Linked DNA regions of Homo sapiens: region 1 is linked to region 2. A link means that fine-mapping ties the variant in region 2 to the expression of a gene that starts in the linked region. Tissue or cell type: whole blood. Region 2 holds a variant in brackets; the other region holds the start of a gene. All regions are shown on one strand. Distances are between the middles of the regions.

Region 1 (8,091 bases), 330 kb after region 2:
CCTCCAAATAATATTATGCAATGGAGGATTCTTACTAATAGAAAAGGAGTTCAGCTGCTGGGCAGCCTTTCAAAACTGACAACACCTGGGCTGGGTGTGGTGGCTAACCCCTGTAATCCCATCGCTTTGTGAGGTGGAGGCTTGTGGATCGCCTGAGCCCAGGAGTTCGAGACCAGCCTGAGCAACATGGGGTAACTCCATCTCCACAAAAAAATACAAAAATTAGCCAGGCATAGTGGCACCTGCCTGTAGTCCCGGCTTACTTGGGAAGCTGAGGTTCACTGGACCCCAGGAGGTGGAGGTTGCAGTGAGCCAAGATCGCCCCACTGCACTCCAGTCTGGGGGACAGATTGGGACCCTGCCACAAAAAAAAAGAAAAAAAAAAACACTCCCAGCATTCGTTAACCAAACTTTGATTTGCTCATCTGTGAAATGGGCATCTGACTGCCTAGTACCTTCCTCATAGGTTTGCTGTGAGAATTTGACAGCGTATGCATGTTGCAGTTAGCATGATGTCTCACATAGGCTGAGCATTGGATAAATTTCAGCTATTCTTACTAATTCTTGTGACTCTCAGCAAGCCACATAGAATCTCTGTGCCCACATTCTCACTCACTGAAGGAAGATTACATCAACCATACTAAATTAGTCAGCATAGGCTAACTGCTGAAACAAGGGACCCCTCAAATCTCAGTGCATTATTTCTCATTCACTTCATTGTCCAGTGAGGGTTGCTGGGATTGGAATGAGGTCCATACAGGCACTCAGAGGCCAAGTCACCTTCTATCTAGTGGCTCTGCCATATACCCGGGACCTGTATTATGTTGGCAGAGGACGAACAATAGCACAAAGGACTGGGTTTTATAGGGACCCAGCCTGGAAGTGGCATATATCAATTCTACCTCTATTCCATTGGCCAGAATTCAGTCACATGAGCTGCACCTAACCACAAGAAGTCAGTTTGGGAAATAATACGCAGCTATGTGTTCCAGAGGAAATGGAAACAAGATTTGGTGCAACACAGCAGACTCTGTCACACCTACCTAACCTCCTCAGAGGGTTGCTAATAAAAGCGCATGTGAACGCCAAGTGTGAAACTGCTATGGAAAGTGATAAACTAACATGAGCTACAGGTGATGCTGCTGCTATTGATTAAGCCAGGGAGTTTCTGTGCATCCTCCACATTGCTAAAACATACAGCAATTTGGGTATGAGAAGAAACCGAAATATAATCAGAAGGTCCTTCCTCCTGTAGGGGAGACTCTTTAACTAGTAAGGCTTTATTTCTCCACTTGTATCTTCAAAAATGGGCCACTCTGGGAGCGGTGACTCACGCCTGTAATCCCAGCACTTTGGGAAGCCGAAGGGGGTGGATCACAAGGTCAGGAGTTCGAGACCAGCCTGGCCAATATGGTGAAACCCCATCTCTACTAAAAATACAAAATTAGCCAGGCAAGGTGGCACATGCCTGTAATCTCAGCTACTAGGGAGGCTGAGACAGGAGAATTGCTTGAATCCAGGAGGCGGAGGTTGCAGTGAGCCAAGTTGCACCACTGCACTCCAGCCTGGGCGACAGAGCGAGAATCTGTCTCAAAAAAAAAAAAAAAAAAGGCCACTGCAGGTAAATAATCTCCTTTCTTTGCCCATTGGTCCAATCCACATGGGCGTGTGGTGAAACTGGAGGGAAAAAAAGGGAGCGAGCAGAATAAAAGAGCAGAAAGCTATTACTTTGAGGAGTGTAATTGTCAGAGCAGGCTGTCAGAGCAGCCTGAAGCAATCACTCAGTAGGGGCCAGCCTCCACAGCAGTAATTTATCACCACATGAAGATGTTGGGGAGTTAATCACAGCACTGACATGTGTCAGCTCCAGGCATTGGGCTCAGCATAAACTTCATGCTTAGAAAATGAAAATAATTAAGAGGGCACACATTTGAAATGTACCACTAAAAAGGGAAGGCAGTCATCTTAGGGTCAGGTGAATGCCATGTTTGTAATCCACTAAACCAACTGGAAGAGCCTGTGGAGGGCAAATGTGTCCAAGGGTACTTTGCTATTTGTACCTGATAGATGCCTTTCACACTGTTTTGAGTCTCTGCATGGCCTGTCATGAAAGAGAAAAGCAAACACAATTTGCACAGGCTTTGCTACATGAATATTAGTGCTTCAGGAATGCTCTAAGATCCTGCCAGCTGCGGCTCAGGAAGGGGTCCAGGCCAGATCTGACTCATCCTGCTGCCTTCCTCCTGGAAATGATCCCCTTTCTCACCCCACTCCTGCTGGCTGAGCCCAGGTCCTGTCTGTCCCATATTTCCTTTGATCCAAGGAAAACTAAAAGTGGTTACTAGCTCCCAAGCGGCCTTTGTTTATAAATGGGTTCCCACCTTAATATGTTTACTCAAAAAACTCGTCAAATAATTAGCTATAACAGAGCAATCAAACTGATCAAACAGTTCTTGGAGTAGTTCAAACCTTCAGAGAGTTATTTAATGACAGTTTTAAATAACTGAACTGGGGTCTTCCAGCATAGAGAAGTAGGGATTGTGGCAGAAACTGCGAGGGAGAATTTTTAAAGTGCTTAGAATAAAAATCTTTTCATTGAAAAAAAATGACAAGAATTGCCCACATAATTATGGCAATTTTTCCTTTCCTTTTGCAATGCAAATTCCTGGCAGAGTGTAAGAGAAACTGAGCTCCACTGTCCCAGTTTTTCAAACTAAGAAAATAAAATAATTTGCTACCTAAACTTTCAACTTCTACTTTTGAAAGCTAAATTTAAGTTTTAAGAATCGTACAACAAAAGAGACTACAGATAAACCTCATTACAATTTTTTAGTATTGAGCATTAGGTTATTTATTTTCCTTCTTCCTAAAGCTACTGTAGAAAGAAAATTCAAAGGACTAGTAAGAAAAATAGCTCAATTGATAACAAGTCTGGTTTGTCAATGACATGCTAATACCTGTAACAGTTACTAATTATCTCAGCAGTGTGTCTCAGTTTTTATATTTAATATATTCTTCATCATTCTTAAATTAATAAATAGCAACCAATTGTTTTCTCTTTTACAAGCTTCATATGGAAAGAAAATTGAAAAAAAAAATTTGTATTAGCAGAAAGTGAATATAAGGGACTTCCCAACCTCCCCTCCATATATTTACTGACAAGCAACTGACATGAGTGATAGCAAAGCAATGTGGTTAGTGAGGAATGGCGCAGAGTGTGCAGTTTCCTTTTTTCTAATGTTGATTTGTTTTCTGTGCTGACACAATCCTAGAGGTTACTGTTCAAAGGAAGCATCGACAACAGAAGTGATTAGAGTACTGATTAAAAGAAGATTTTTAAGAAAATGACCAATCACCATCAATCTTAATATTGGCTAACAAATGTGTATTTTTCTTTCTCATATTATTAAGTAAATAGTATAAACAGAATAATTCTTTATTAGTATATCCATATAGTGCCTTTTGCAAGTAAATATGATTCTGGATATTTTATGACCTGTAATTACTTGAAATCGGAAAGCCCTTTTAGTTTCTCTTATTACCCATGTGTTGCTGAGACTAACTGAAGAACCAGTTAGGAGGTTTGTTCGTTCACGAAATAACATTTAAGAAATGGGTACCTGCTTATCACATAAAAGAATCCAGTTATTTACTTACCCTGTGAGGAGACATAATATGTTAGAATGCTTGTACACTGCAGATGGGAAGAGGTTTTTCCAGGAATTTAAATTGTGCAATAAGGCCACACAATCTTACTTAAAAAAAATGGTGAAGGGGTTTTAATTACACCATGAAGTTTTACAATTTTTTAGGTTTTTAGTTCTGGTTTTAGAAAACAGAGTAGAAGGATTACAGAGAAAAACTTCACCATTAGACAAGAAGTCAAAATGATTCTAAGGGCCGCGCAAACAGGCTTTTCCAAGAATTAATCATGAGGTGGTGCTTGGAGAATTCCTTTACTCCAGTGACTTTGAAACCCCCTTCTCACTCTCCACTAGTCTTTCAAAGGATTCATGGTGAATTGGGTCTAACGAGTATAACACGGCCGGCCGAAGGCATGAAGCTCACGCTACCCTTTCAGGGCGGAGAAGTTCCCAGGAGGAAGAATGGAGAAAAAGATCGCAGTTAGGCAGTCCTCCCAACCTCACCAAGGCTCCACCTCTCTCCAAAGCCGCAAGGCTCTGCCACCTGCGCCGGGAGAGGCTGCAATCACTGTCTCCTCCTCTTTCTTTCTCTTTTTTTTTTTTCTTTTTTGCCTGGGGTGCCCGACCAAGCGCAGCCCGCAGTCTGGGCACTGCCAACTGACTCCAACTCCTTTTATGGTGAGAGGATGGATTCTTCGTTATTTCCCCGCCCAATCTGGTACCCACCCACCCACCCACCTACCACGTCCGCTGGGCGCACCCAAGTCTAACCCCGGGGCGCACGCGCTAGCGCAGACACCGTATTTCTTCTCCTTTCTCGGCCAACCCTAGGTAGAATCCTAAAACAACTGCCCTCTCTTCCACGATCTAGATGTTGCGGCCCGCGGACAGGAGGTTCAAGAAATAGTACACTCCGAGCGGCAGGCAGCGAGGCGGAAACGGTCGCCGGTTTCAGTGGTGGCCCCACTGGAAGCCGAGTTCAGGAGCGGCTAAGCGGTCGCCGGGGAAAGCACCGGGGCTTCCCAGGGTCCCCTCCGAGTTCCCACTCCGCACCTCCGAGGGCGTGAAAACCACGGGAGCCGCCCCACCCCGCGCGCCCAGCCCCGCCCCAGCCCAGACACCGCCCCCCGCCAGTCTTCCCTGCGGCGCCCAGGGAGGACGCGCTCCGCCCCCTTCCAATCCGGCCAATGGGCGCCCGGGCAGCGCGCGGTTTGCCTCCGCCTCCGCCAGGGAAACTTGGAGGAGGAGAAAAGTTTGTACAGAGGGTGGAAAGGCGAGAGCGGAGCTCCAAGCCCGGCAGCCCGAGAGGAAGATGAACAGCCCCAGGCCAGAGCCTCTGGCAGAGTGGACCCCGAGCCGCCCCCAGGTAGCCAGGAGCGGCCTCAGCGGCAGCCGCAAACTCCAGTAGCCGCCCGTGCTGCCCGTGGCTGGGGCGGAGGGCAGCCAGAGCTGGGGACCAAGGCTCCGCGCCACCTGCGCGCACAGCCTCACACCTGAACGCTGTCCTCCCGCAGACGAGACCGGCGGGCACTGCAAAGCTGGGACTCGTCTTTGAAGGAAAAAAAATAGCGAGTAAGAAATCCAGCACCATTCTTCACTGACCCATCCCGCTGCACCTCTTGTTTCCCAAGTTTTTGAAAGCTGGCAACTCTGACCTCGGTGTCCAAAAATCGACAGCCACTGAGACCGGCTTTGAGAAGCCGAAGATTTGGCAGTTTCCAGACTGAGCAGGACAAGGTGAAAGCAGGTTGGAGGCGGGTCCAGGACATCTGAGGGCTGACCCTGGGGGCTCGTGAGGCTGCCACCGCTGCTGCCGCTACAGGTGAGATGGCGTTGGGCTGACGTTGGGGTCAACGGGTAGAGAACGCAGGGATGCGGCCCTCGCCGAAGAGAGCCAAGAAGGGAAGAGCGCGCTCTCCAAATTGCTTTTGTAACTTGTTTTCAGTGAGCATTTTATTGATTCAGAATCTATCGAGAATAGCACTAGCGAGCTACTTTTCCCTTGAGATGGGTCTTATTCATCTTGGCAATGGAGTGAGTTGGATTGTGGGGAGGAAGAGGAATGGGAAAATCAGTTTATAAATATTAATGTCAGCAAGAGTGTGCTGTTGGCAGGACGTATCGCGAGCCTGGAGATTTTGGTGGCCGCAGTTGGTAAGTGGCTACAATCCAGAAAGTAGGATCGAGTTGCTCCCCTTGTCTTATCAGTGTATCGTTTCTCGGGCGCGGGTCTAACACCTTACAAGTGGTAATTTCCGCTCACGGCAGCTTTGTCTCTCTTCTACCATCCCCAGACCCAGCCTTGCACTCCAAGGCTGCGCACCGCCAGCCACTATCATGTCCACTCCCGGGGTCAATTCGTCCGCCTCCTTGAGCCCCGACCGGCTGAACAGCCCAGTGACCATCCCGGCGGTGATGTTCATCTTCGGGGTGGTGGGCAACCTGGTGGCCATCGTGGTGCTGTGCAAGTCGCGCAAGGAGCAGAAGGAGACGACCTTCTACACGCTGGTATGTGGGCTGGCTGTCACCGACCTGTTGGGCACTTTGTTGGTGAGCCCGGTGACCATCGCCACGTACATGAAGGGCCAATGGCCCGGGGGCCAGCCGCTGTGCGAGTACAGCACCTTCATTCTGCTCTTCTTCAGCCTGTCCGGCCTCAGCATCATCTGCGCCATGAGTGTCGAGCGCTACCTGGCCATCAACCATGCCTATTTCTACAGCCACTACGTGGACAAGCGATTGGCGGGCCTCACGCTCTTTGCAGTCTATGCGTCCAACGTGCTCTTTTGCGCGCTGCCCAACATGGGTCTCGGTAGCTCGCGGCTGCAGTACCCAGACACCTGGTGCTTCATCGACTGGACCACCAACGTGACGGCGCACGCCGCCTACTCCTACATGTACGCGGGCTTCAGCTCCTTCCTCATTCTCGCCACCGTCCTCTGCAACGTGCTTGTGTGCGGCGCGCTGCTCCGCATGCACCGCCAGTTCATGCGCCGCACCTCGCTGGGCACCGAGCAGCACCACGCGGCCGCGGCCGCCTCGGTTGCCTCCCGGGGCCACCCCGCTGCCTCCCCAGCCTTGCCGCGCCTCAGCGACTTTCGGCGCCGCCGGAGCTTCCGCCGCATCGCGGGCGCCGAGATCCAGATGGTCATCTTACTCATTGCCACCTCCCTGGTGGTGCTCATCTGCTCCATCCCGCTCGTGGTGAGTGACCGGGGCTGGGGCCCTACTCGGCCTTTTTCTCGCATCCACCTCCCGCGTCCATTCCCCGCTCCCTGCTTTCCCTCTGAGTCCTTGGCAGTGAACGTGTCGCCTTTAGGTCGGGGCTGGGATTCCCACACTGTTTCTCAGAGCAGGCCCAACCCTCTTTGAAGTCCCAACCCTAACGAGATTTAGCAGGTGCTTTGCCCCTACATCCCCCAGTTTATGTTCCCGGAAGCCTGGGTTTCTTTCTCCACCGAGACAGCCCTTACCCCTTGCTGCCTGACACTGGCCGAGTCTTCCAAGAAAACCCCCCGCCCCCTCTGTTAGACGTGGAGGGGAGCCTGCTGTAGTGTGACTTAGCCCATTCCTCCGTACTGTGAACTGTGAACTGCAAAACCTGAAATGTCAGGGATGGTGATCTGTTCGTTGTAAACCATTTTTAAGGAAAGTGGGGTTTTTGGTGTTTTGATGTATGCAAGGTTTCTTGAATTTCTTCCCCCGTGGATTGCGTAGAATTTTAAAGCTAGAAGAGATATCAAGAGGTGTTTTAGTCTAACTCCCTCACTTCACTGAGGGAGTGAATGATACGCTTAAAATAATCCAGCCGAACCTACACAGTCAAGCTAGGCTCCCTGCTCTTTACCATGGTGTGCCCTGGGAGGGCAGCTTAAAGCACACAAATTCTAATTCATATACAGGGCAGGGTCCAGACTCAGTTTCTTTCATTCTGTCTAGACCAGGAAAGCAAAGTTTCTCAGGGTGACTAATTATGGACAGGCTGATATACATAGGGTATGGGATTTGAATTCTCGACAACTGTGCGAGGTACAGTACCATTTTAGAGAAACCGAGGTTTAGAGATGGCTGTCTTTGTTTCTTCAAGCCAAAGCTCTACAGCTTGTAATGGACCTTAGGCCGTCTGAGGCCAGACCCAGCTCATGTGTTATTACATCACGTCTCCCTCGTAGAACATTTCTCATTTTGGCGTTTGTAAAGCGTGGGTTGGAGTTTTGGTACACTTCATTTTTAGTTCATCTTTTAAGAATTGCCTTTGGATTAACTTTTAAAATATGATAAACAGAAAGGCTCAAACCCTACCTAGTTTTCTACTTTGCCTGTGGCTAAAATGGAATGCACCAGAAGCAGATGGGCAGAATAATGCAATACTTTATCTAGAGTTTCTCTTGAAAGCAACTAGTTATGAGTTCTTCCATCTTCCAAAACACTGCATTCCTGGAAATTC
Region 2 (8,112 bases):
CCACCAATCTTACAGAAGTAAAAAGAACGTATAAGATAATGTCATAAATAAATGTATGCCAACAAATTAGATAACTAATATGCAATGGAAATATTACTACAAAAACACAAATTACCAAAACTGACTCAATAAGAAACAAAAAATCTGAGCAGACCTATAACAGTTAAAGGGATTGAATCAGTAATCAAAAAACTTCCAACAAAGAAAAGCCCAGGGCCATATGGCTTCTTAGTGAATTCTACTAAATATTTAAAGAGGAATTAACACCAATCCTTCTCAAACTCTTTTTAAAAATGGCATAGATATAAACACTTCTTAATTTATTTTATAGGGCTAGTATTATCCTGATAGCAAAATCAGATTGACATTAAAAAAACTACAGATCAATATTCTTTATCAATACAGATGCAAAAATCCTTAACAAAATACTAGCAAATCAAATCCAGTAGCATATTTAAGAAATTATAAACCACACACCATGACCAAGAAGAAATTTTATCCCAGAAGCATAAGGCTTAGTTTAACATTCTAAAATTAGTTAATGTAATACACTATATTAATGAATGAAGAGAAAAATATCTCGATAGATGAAGAAAAGGCATTTAAAAAAATCCAGTTGTCATGACAAACACCTCAAATAAAGGAAAACTTCAACTTGAAAAAGAAAATTTATGAAAAATCCACAGCTAATATCATACTTAATGTAGAAAAACTAAATAATTTTCTGCCAAGAAGAAGAAAAAGATAAAGATGTCCACTCTCACTACTTCTAATGGAAATTGTGCTAAAATATCTATCCAGAGAAAATAGGGAAAAACAGTGCATATAAAAACCTGCACATAAATTTTCATAGAAGCACTATTCATAATAGCTCAAAATTGGGAGCAACCAATTATCTATCAACTTATAAATGGATAAACAAAAAAACAAAAAATACACAATAAATATATATATCCATACAATTAATATATATATATCCATACAATGAAAAAATATATATATACATCTCCATATAATAAATATATCCATACCTTGAAATATTGTTTGGCAATAAATATAAATGAAGTACTGATATGTGCTACAATATGGGTGAAACTTGAAAATATTCTGTTAAGTGATAAAAGCCAGGCACAAAAAAACACATACCGTATGATCCCATTTGTGTAAAATGTTTTTCATTTCTCTTGTTTTGCTTTTCTGTTTTCCATAGAATAGCTTACTATTGCAGGGGGGGGGTAGGGTGGGAATTAGTATTATGTCCTGAATTTTTATGTGTATTTTTCTATAATGTACAAAGAGTTACATCCTCAAGTGAAAAGTTATGCCCCTTTTCTGTCATCTTTTTTCATTACAGCTAACAGGTTTTGTTTTTCTAATTTCTCAATAATTTTAATATTAGAGATGCCATAATTCTTACAACAGGGAAGGAATCTCAGGAGGTCAGGCTGTCAGAGAAGAACACACAATTTGTTACATAGAACGTAACTATTAATGGGAAAAAGGGTTCTATTAGTAAAATGCAAGGAAGATAACACTTAACAGCTAGAAATTTTCTCCAAACGATCTATGTTTCTATTTTAAATTGTATCATGGATATTCAGTATGTCTTCTAGCTGATTCTATTTGTTAACTGAATTTGCACTAGAAATTTGTTCATATTACATTATGTGATATGATAAATAATTTTCTGTGGCCATGCCAAGTTCATGAACTCTACAATATTCCCTGATATAGCACATATCTACTAGCTCATATGAAATATGTGGGCATTATTTCTTTTCTAAGAAATATGCCAAAATCCCATCCCCTGATTCACCAGTGGTTATTTTAGTGGTGCCCTAAATATTTTTCTTTTCTTAGTGTCACACAGAATCTGATAATATAAAAATTAAATGCTAACCATGGTTAAGTGAATGAAACATATGTAATTTAGAGGCATTTATATAGAAATGATTCACCAAACTGAATATTGACCTTAAAAATATTAATGGATGCCATTAGAAAAAATAGATAGGTACAATTAAATCAAAGTATACTATTGGAAATTTTTTAAATCTAACTTTAAACACTAAATTAGTGTAATTACTACTAACTCTCTTCAATTATTTCACAAATATTTATTGAGTGGGTACGATATGGAAGGTAGTAGGTCAAGAACTGTGTAAGATATGAAGATGAATAAGATAAGATCCTGCCCTCTAGAGTTTATAATATAGAACCAGAGATAGGACATGAACAAAAACTATCACTGTACTTGAAAGTACAATGTGCCAAACAGCAAAACGTAAGTACAGATAAGCTGCTATAGATATTTCTCATCTCAGGGACTCATTCTACTGCCTTAAGGTAACTGGTAGAAAGGCTGTCTTTTTCTTGCCTGCATTTATTACTAATGTTATACTCCTTTATTCAAATCATAATCTAAGAAATTAATTTAAGAAAGTAATCAACAGAAGCTGGGCATTATATCTATACCAGGAAAAAGTAGAAAAAAACACCTGTACACTAAATAAATGGGAAATAAATTATTACACAATGATTTGATGAAGTAGGATGAAATCATTATATAATGTTCAACTAAGTATAGACATATGCAGCATAATTTTTAAATGTAAACAGGAAATTAGTTTTATTAGGATAGTGAGACTATGGGTATTATTTGGGAGGCAATCTTTAATGTTGTGATATTTTTATGATGGAAAAAATAAAAGAACATACATTGGCATTTATTTACTGAGGTATCACATCAAAGTATTCTGTTTTCCACATTATGCAGAAAAATTAAAAGATTAATTACCGAGGAAGCATTACTTCTATACTCAACTGCACATCTGTATTGATAGTGTGGTTGACCCAGTAGCACCTAGATTATGATTAAGACAGACGCACATAGCAACCAGGCATTATGAGGTTATGACATGATATTCCATGGAGTTCTCCAAACAGCTCCAAGAGCATTTACACTTTACTGGCAAACCATGTCCTTAAGATGGATAGTCATGAAGCTAACCAACCCCAGATTATTGCTGGTTTTTTTTTTACAAAAATTAAAACATCTGCTTTCTTTTTATCTATGTCCCTCCCTCTACTTTCATTGAAAAAAAAGAAAAACAATATGTTTATATCTTGCCTAAACAGTTTAGTAGATGGATAAGTGTTGATCATTATACTAATAACTAGAAATGTTAATACAGAAAATTATTAAAATTTCATATTATATCCCTTTTCACTAATTGTACTCCCAAACAGGCTTATGTAATAAAAGTTGCCTTCAAGCCAAGTCCTAATGTCTACAGTCACATGGAATGGTTATCCACATTTCTTCCTCTTAAAGTTTTATTTTCTGATTTGGAAAGTATTACTTATTGAGCCAACTTTTCATTAAATACTAAATTTTTTCTTAGCCAGCTCCCAGAGGGGAGGTAGTTTTATTGCAATATATGAACACATGGAATTTGCAGATATTTGTGGGCAAGCCCCTGCAACTATCTCATAGTTCACTGTACCAAATTTTTTATATCACGAGCCAAGTTTATTCTTCCTCATCCAGGATAGAGTTCCCTTCTAGAGGCTGACACACACAAAAAAGGAGGAGATATTGTGTATCACACCTAAATCTAAAAACCCAAACCATGTTAAAATAGATTTTCACAACAAGAAGTAGACAGCAGTTTACTATGAGTAGAGTTTTTAAAACTAGTGCAGTGCCTCCAATTTTCTAAATTCAATCATAGAAGTATCAGGGAAAATTGACGTTTCATCTTTGTACCTCACATTCGTGTTTAATTATTTACTAATTCATTCATTCATTCAATCATTATTTGTTGAGTGCTGACTATGGGTTAAAACACTCTGTTAGGCACTAGGAACATATTGCTAAACCGAAAGAAGATCGTTTCTATCTTCACAGAGGTGAATCCAGACATTGAAGAACCAATTACAGAATTGCTTATTTAAATACACGCTATGAAGAAGAACTACAAATTTTTGATAGTATGTAACTGAGGTGGTTTTGCAAGATTCCTCTGGGGGAAAAAATAGCACATATTCTGAAATATGAAGGACAAACAAACCTAGGCAAGGTCAAGCTGCGAATAAGGAGACAGGAAAAAAGCAACAAAGGACATTTCAGATGAGAAAAAAGCATGTGCATAGGCTCTGAGGCAGAAAGAAAAAAAAGGAAAGAAAGCAAAGAAAGAAAGAAAGGAAAGG[AAAGG/A]AAGGAAGGAAGGAAGGAAAGAAAAGGAAGGAAGGAGCAAACTAGAGACAAGGAGGGCGGGGGTTGAAGATGGCTGATTAGAAGCATTTTAAGCCTGCTGCTAAACTTAGAAGAACTAGAGTAGTGTAGTGCATAGATAGTTACACTTTGAGTTTATTTTCCAAGAGAGAACACTGAATTCAACAGGGAAGTGACAGGAGGCACCAAAAGTGGGAGTCGGTGGGGCGGATGGGAGAAGAGGCAACCTCCCTGGCCGGGATTGGCTGCAAGCCTGGAGTGACTTCTCAACACAGGGAAGGGATGAGTAAAAGACTTCCAGCAGCCCACATCCCCACCATGCAATCACGCAATTCTGGCCTACGGAGATGCCCTCATTTCTCTCAACCCCTGAAATAACGTAGGAAGCTGCTGGGAGACTGTGGGATGGAACTCCTCCAGGGAGGGAGCTCATACGGTATCTCACACCCTTTCTAAGACCTATGCAGCTACAGCAAGTTGTCATTTTCAAAACTAGCTCTGGTACTGCACACTGTTCTGGGACCCAGGGGCACTGGGAATGAGGCATTACTGAAACCCAAGCTGTCATTGCTGGGACAGCAGAGCAAGCCTGGAGCACTGCCACCGCCAGGGCTAGAAAGCAAGCAAGGAGTAGGCAGCAGTTTCCAGTCATGGGAAGCAAGTGCTTAGCTGCTGAGATCTAAGATGGGGATGCGAGCATAGTGTGAATTGCCACTGGGACTTGGTCATAAACTGGGCGTAGTCTCCTGTAGCCAGAGCAAGAGACAAGCCCTGAAGGGACTGGGGTGTGAATGAGATCCACGTCGCCCACATATCAGCTGAGACCACTGAGGGAGGCCCCAATCTCTGCCATGGCAGTGCCTCAGCTTTTCTGCTATTGCCCTTTATTCCAAGCACTGCTCCTGGGACCTGAAGATCACCCCACCCTGGCCCTCCACATCTGGTGCCCACTTTCACCATGGTGGGGGGTTGGGGGCACACCTAAGCACAAGCTCATGCAGCCCAGCTTTGGCCCCCTCAGGACAGTGCACATAGCCTGAGGTTCTGGGGATCACTAATCCACCATCTTGGGTACCTGAGCACTCCTCCTGGGGGCCTAAGGTCAGACCTAACCTCCCAGCTGCTACCACCTCAGCTGCCACCCACCTGCAAGTTCCACTTGTGGGCCTGTAGACTCGCTCACCCAACCCCTCACAGCCATAGCCAACAGCAACACATACCACTTGAGACCCAGAGAATTTTCCCACCATTGCCACTATTATCACCCAATCCACACCAGCTGTCAGGGACGTGAGTACTTACCAGCCTGCCCAGTCCACTGCGTCATTATCAGCATTTGAGCATGCCACCTAGAGACCCAAGAATAGACCCACCAGTAACTGCCAACACAGGTGCCACTGGGGCACAAAGGTAGGCACACTCAGCCTATGGCTGCCACTACTGGGGCCTGAGGACCAGCCCACCTGGTATCCTAGTCTCCAGAACAACTTTACCATAGCCTCCGTAATAGCCACACCCTAACCCACCAAGTGAATCAAAGACACCACTAATATCAAAGAAATCATACAGAGAGACTACACTACCGAACATGTCCAGAATCAGAGCCAGAGTAACTTATCCAACCAACACCATAGATACATCTTTGGAAAAAGATCCTCCCTCAATGAAAGTATATTCAAAAATAGTAAGAACCGACTGTTAACAACAAATGCGTAAATGTCAATGTATGTAAGAACAAATGAAGAATGAAAAAGCAAGGAAATATAACACTTGCAAAGGAACACAATAATTCTCCAGGAATAGATCTTAATCAAAATGAAATTTTCAAAACCCCAGATAAAGAATTAAAAACATTGATTTTAAAGAAACTCAGTGAGATCCAAGGGAATTCTGAAAAACAGTACAAAAAATCAGAAATATAAATCAGAAATATAGTTCAGGTTATGAGTGAGAATTATACTGAAAAGATGGATATTTTTAAAAGAATCAAATAGAAATTCCTGAACTGAAGAATTTATTGAAGGAAATCCAAAATACATTTGAAAGCTTCAACAATAGACTAGGTTACACAGAAGACAGAGCCTCATAACTTGAAGACATCTTTTAAAATAATCCAAACTGAAAAAAGAAGAAAAAAGGAAAAACAAGAATAAGCAAAGCCATTGTGACATTTGAGACAACATAAAGTGACTGAATATACAAATTATTGCCTCCCTGGGAATGAAGAAACAAGGAAAGGATCAGAAAACATATTTAACAAAATAATGGATGAAAACATCCCAAGTCTAGCAAGAGGTTTAGACATTTATATTCAGGAGGCTCAATCCCCAGATAGATAAATACAAAAAATCTTCCCCAGGGCACATTAAAATCAGAATGTCTAAAGTCAAAGTTAAAGAGAAAATCCTAAAAACACCAAGAGAAAGCTATTTAATAACGTACAGAGAAAACCCTGGCAGACAGGGGTTTTAAATCCCATGGATTTAAACAGGGCTTTAGACCAAATGGACCTAACAGACATTTACAGAGCATTCTATCCAACAGCTTCAAAATATACATTCTTTTCGTCAACACTTTCTCCAGGATGGACCATATGTTAGGCCACAAAACAAGACATAATTACTTTTAAAAGTCAAAATCATGAAGTATCCTCTCACACTACAATGTAATAAAACCAGAAATCAATACAAAGGGAAGCTTGAAACTATACAAATACAGGAAATTAAACAACATGTTTCTGAATGACCACTGGGTCAACAAAAATATTTCAAGATGGAAATCAAAAAATTTCTTGAAACAAATAAAAATGGAAACACAGTATACCAAAACCTGTGGGACACAGCAAAAGCAGTGCTAAAAGGGAAGTTTACAGCAATAAACACCAATTTCAAAAAAAGTAGAAAGATGAGAAACTAACGATCTAAGAGTGCATTTCAAGTGACTAAAAAGCAAGAACAAACCAAATGCAAAATTAGCAGAAGAAAAGAAATAATAAAGACCAGAACTGAGCTAAATTAAATAGAAATTAAAAATAAAAATACGAAGAATCAATGAAATTAACAGTTGGTTCTTTGAAAAGAAACAAAATTAATAAACCAGTAGTTAGATTAATCAAGAAAAGAAGAGAGAAGACCCAAACAAACAAAATCAGAAATGAAAAAAAAGAGACATTACAACTGATACCACAGAAATACGAAAGATCATCAAAGACTACTATGAACAACTACACACTGACAGACTGGAAAACCTAGAGGAAATAAATTCCTGGAAACATACAACCTACTAAGATGAATCAAGAAGAAAGAGAAAACCAGAGCATACCAATAACGAAAAGTGAAATTGAATCAGTAATAAAAAATGTCTCCCAGCAAAGAAAAGTCCAGGACCGATGGATTCATAACCAAATTTTACCAAATGTACAAAGAAGAACTAATGTCAATCCTCCTGAAACTATTCCAAAACAGCAAAGAGATAATTCCTCCCAACTCAATTTACTTGCCCAGTATTACCGTGATACTAAAACCAAACTAGGACATGCCAAAACAAAAACATGCAGGTCAATATCCCTGAAGAACACAAACACAAAAATCCTCAACAAAATACTAGCAAACTGAATCCAACAGCACATAAATAAGATAATACACTATAATAAGGTAGAATTTTCAATAAATGTAATACATCACATCAACAAAATGAAGGACAAAACCATATGATCATCTCAATAGACTCATAAAAAATTTTAATAAAAATCATTATAATAAAAGCCATATATGATAAGCCCACAGCTTACATCCTACTGAATGGGGAAAAGTTGAAAGCATTTTCTCTAAGACTGGAACAAGACAAGGATGCCCACTTTCACCACTCCTAATAAACGT

Evidence for each region. PIP is the estimated chance that this variant, and not a neighbour inherited with it, causes the effect.
Region 1: it holds the start of PTGER4, and the variant in region 2 is fine-mapped to the expression of PTGER4 in whole blood (INTERVAL, PIP above 0.99).

What each region holds. Positions count from the first base shown.
Region 1 is chr5:40,675,013-40,683,103 of GRCh38, forward strand. It overlaps PTGER4 (prostaglandin E receptor 4), which reads left to right and starts at 4,903. Exons shown (of 3, transcript NM_000958.3): 1 at 4,903-5,466; 2 at 5,939-6,848. The coding sequence starts at 5,982. RefSeq lists a silencer at 4,566-4,785 and an enhancer at 5,921-6,448.
Region 2 is chr5:40,343,704-40,351,815 of GRCh38, forward strand. No RefSeq gene overlaps it. Among named protein-coding and RNA genes, the nearest start is that of LINC00604, 110 kb to the left of the region's middle. The variant AAAGG/A (reference allele first, on the strand shown) is at 4,213.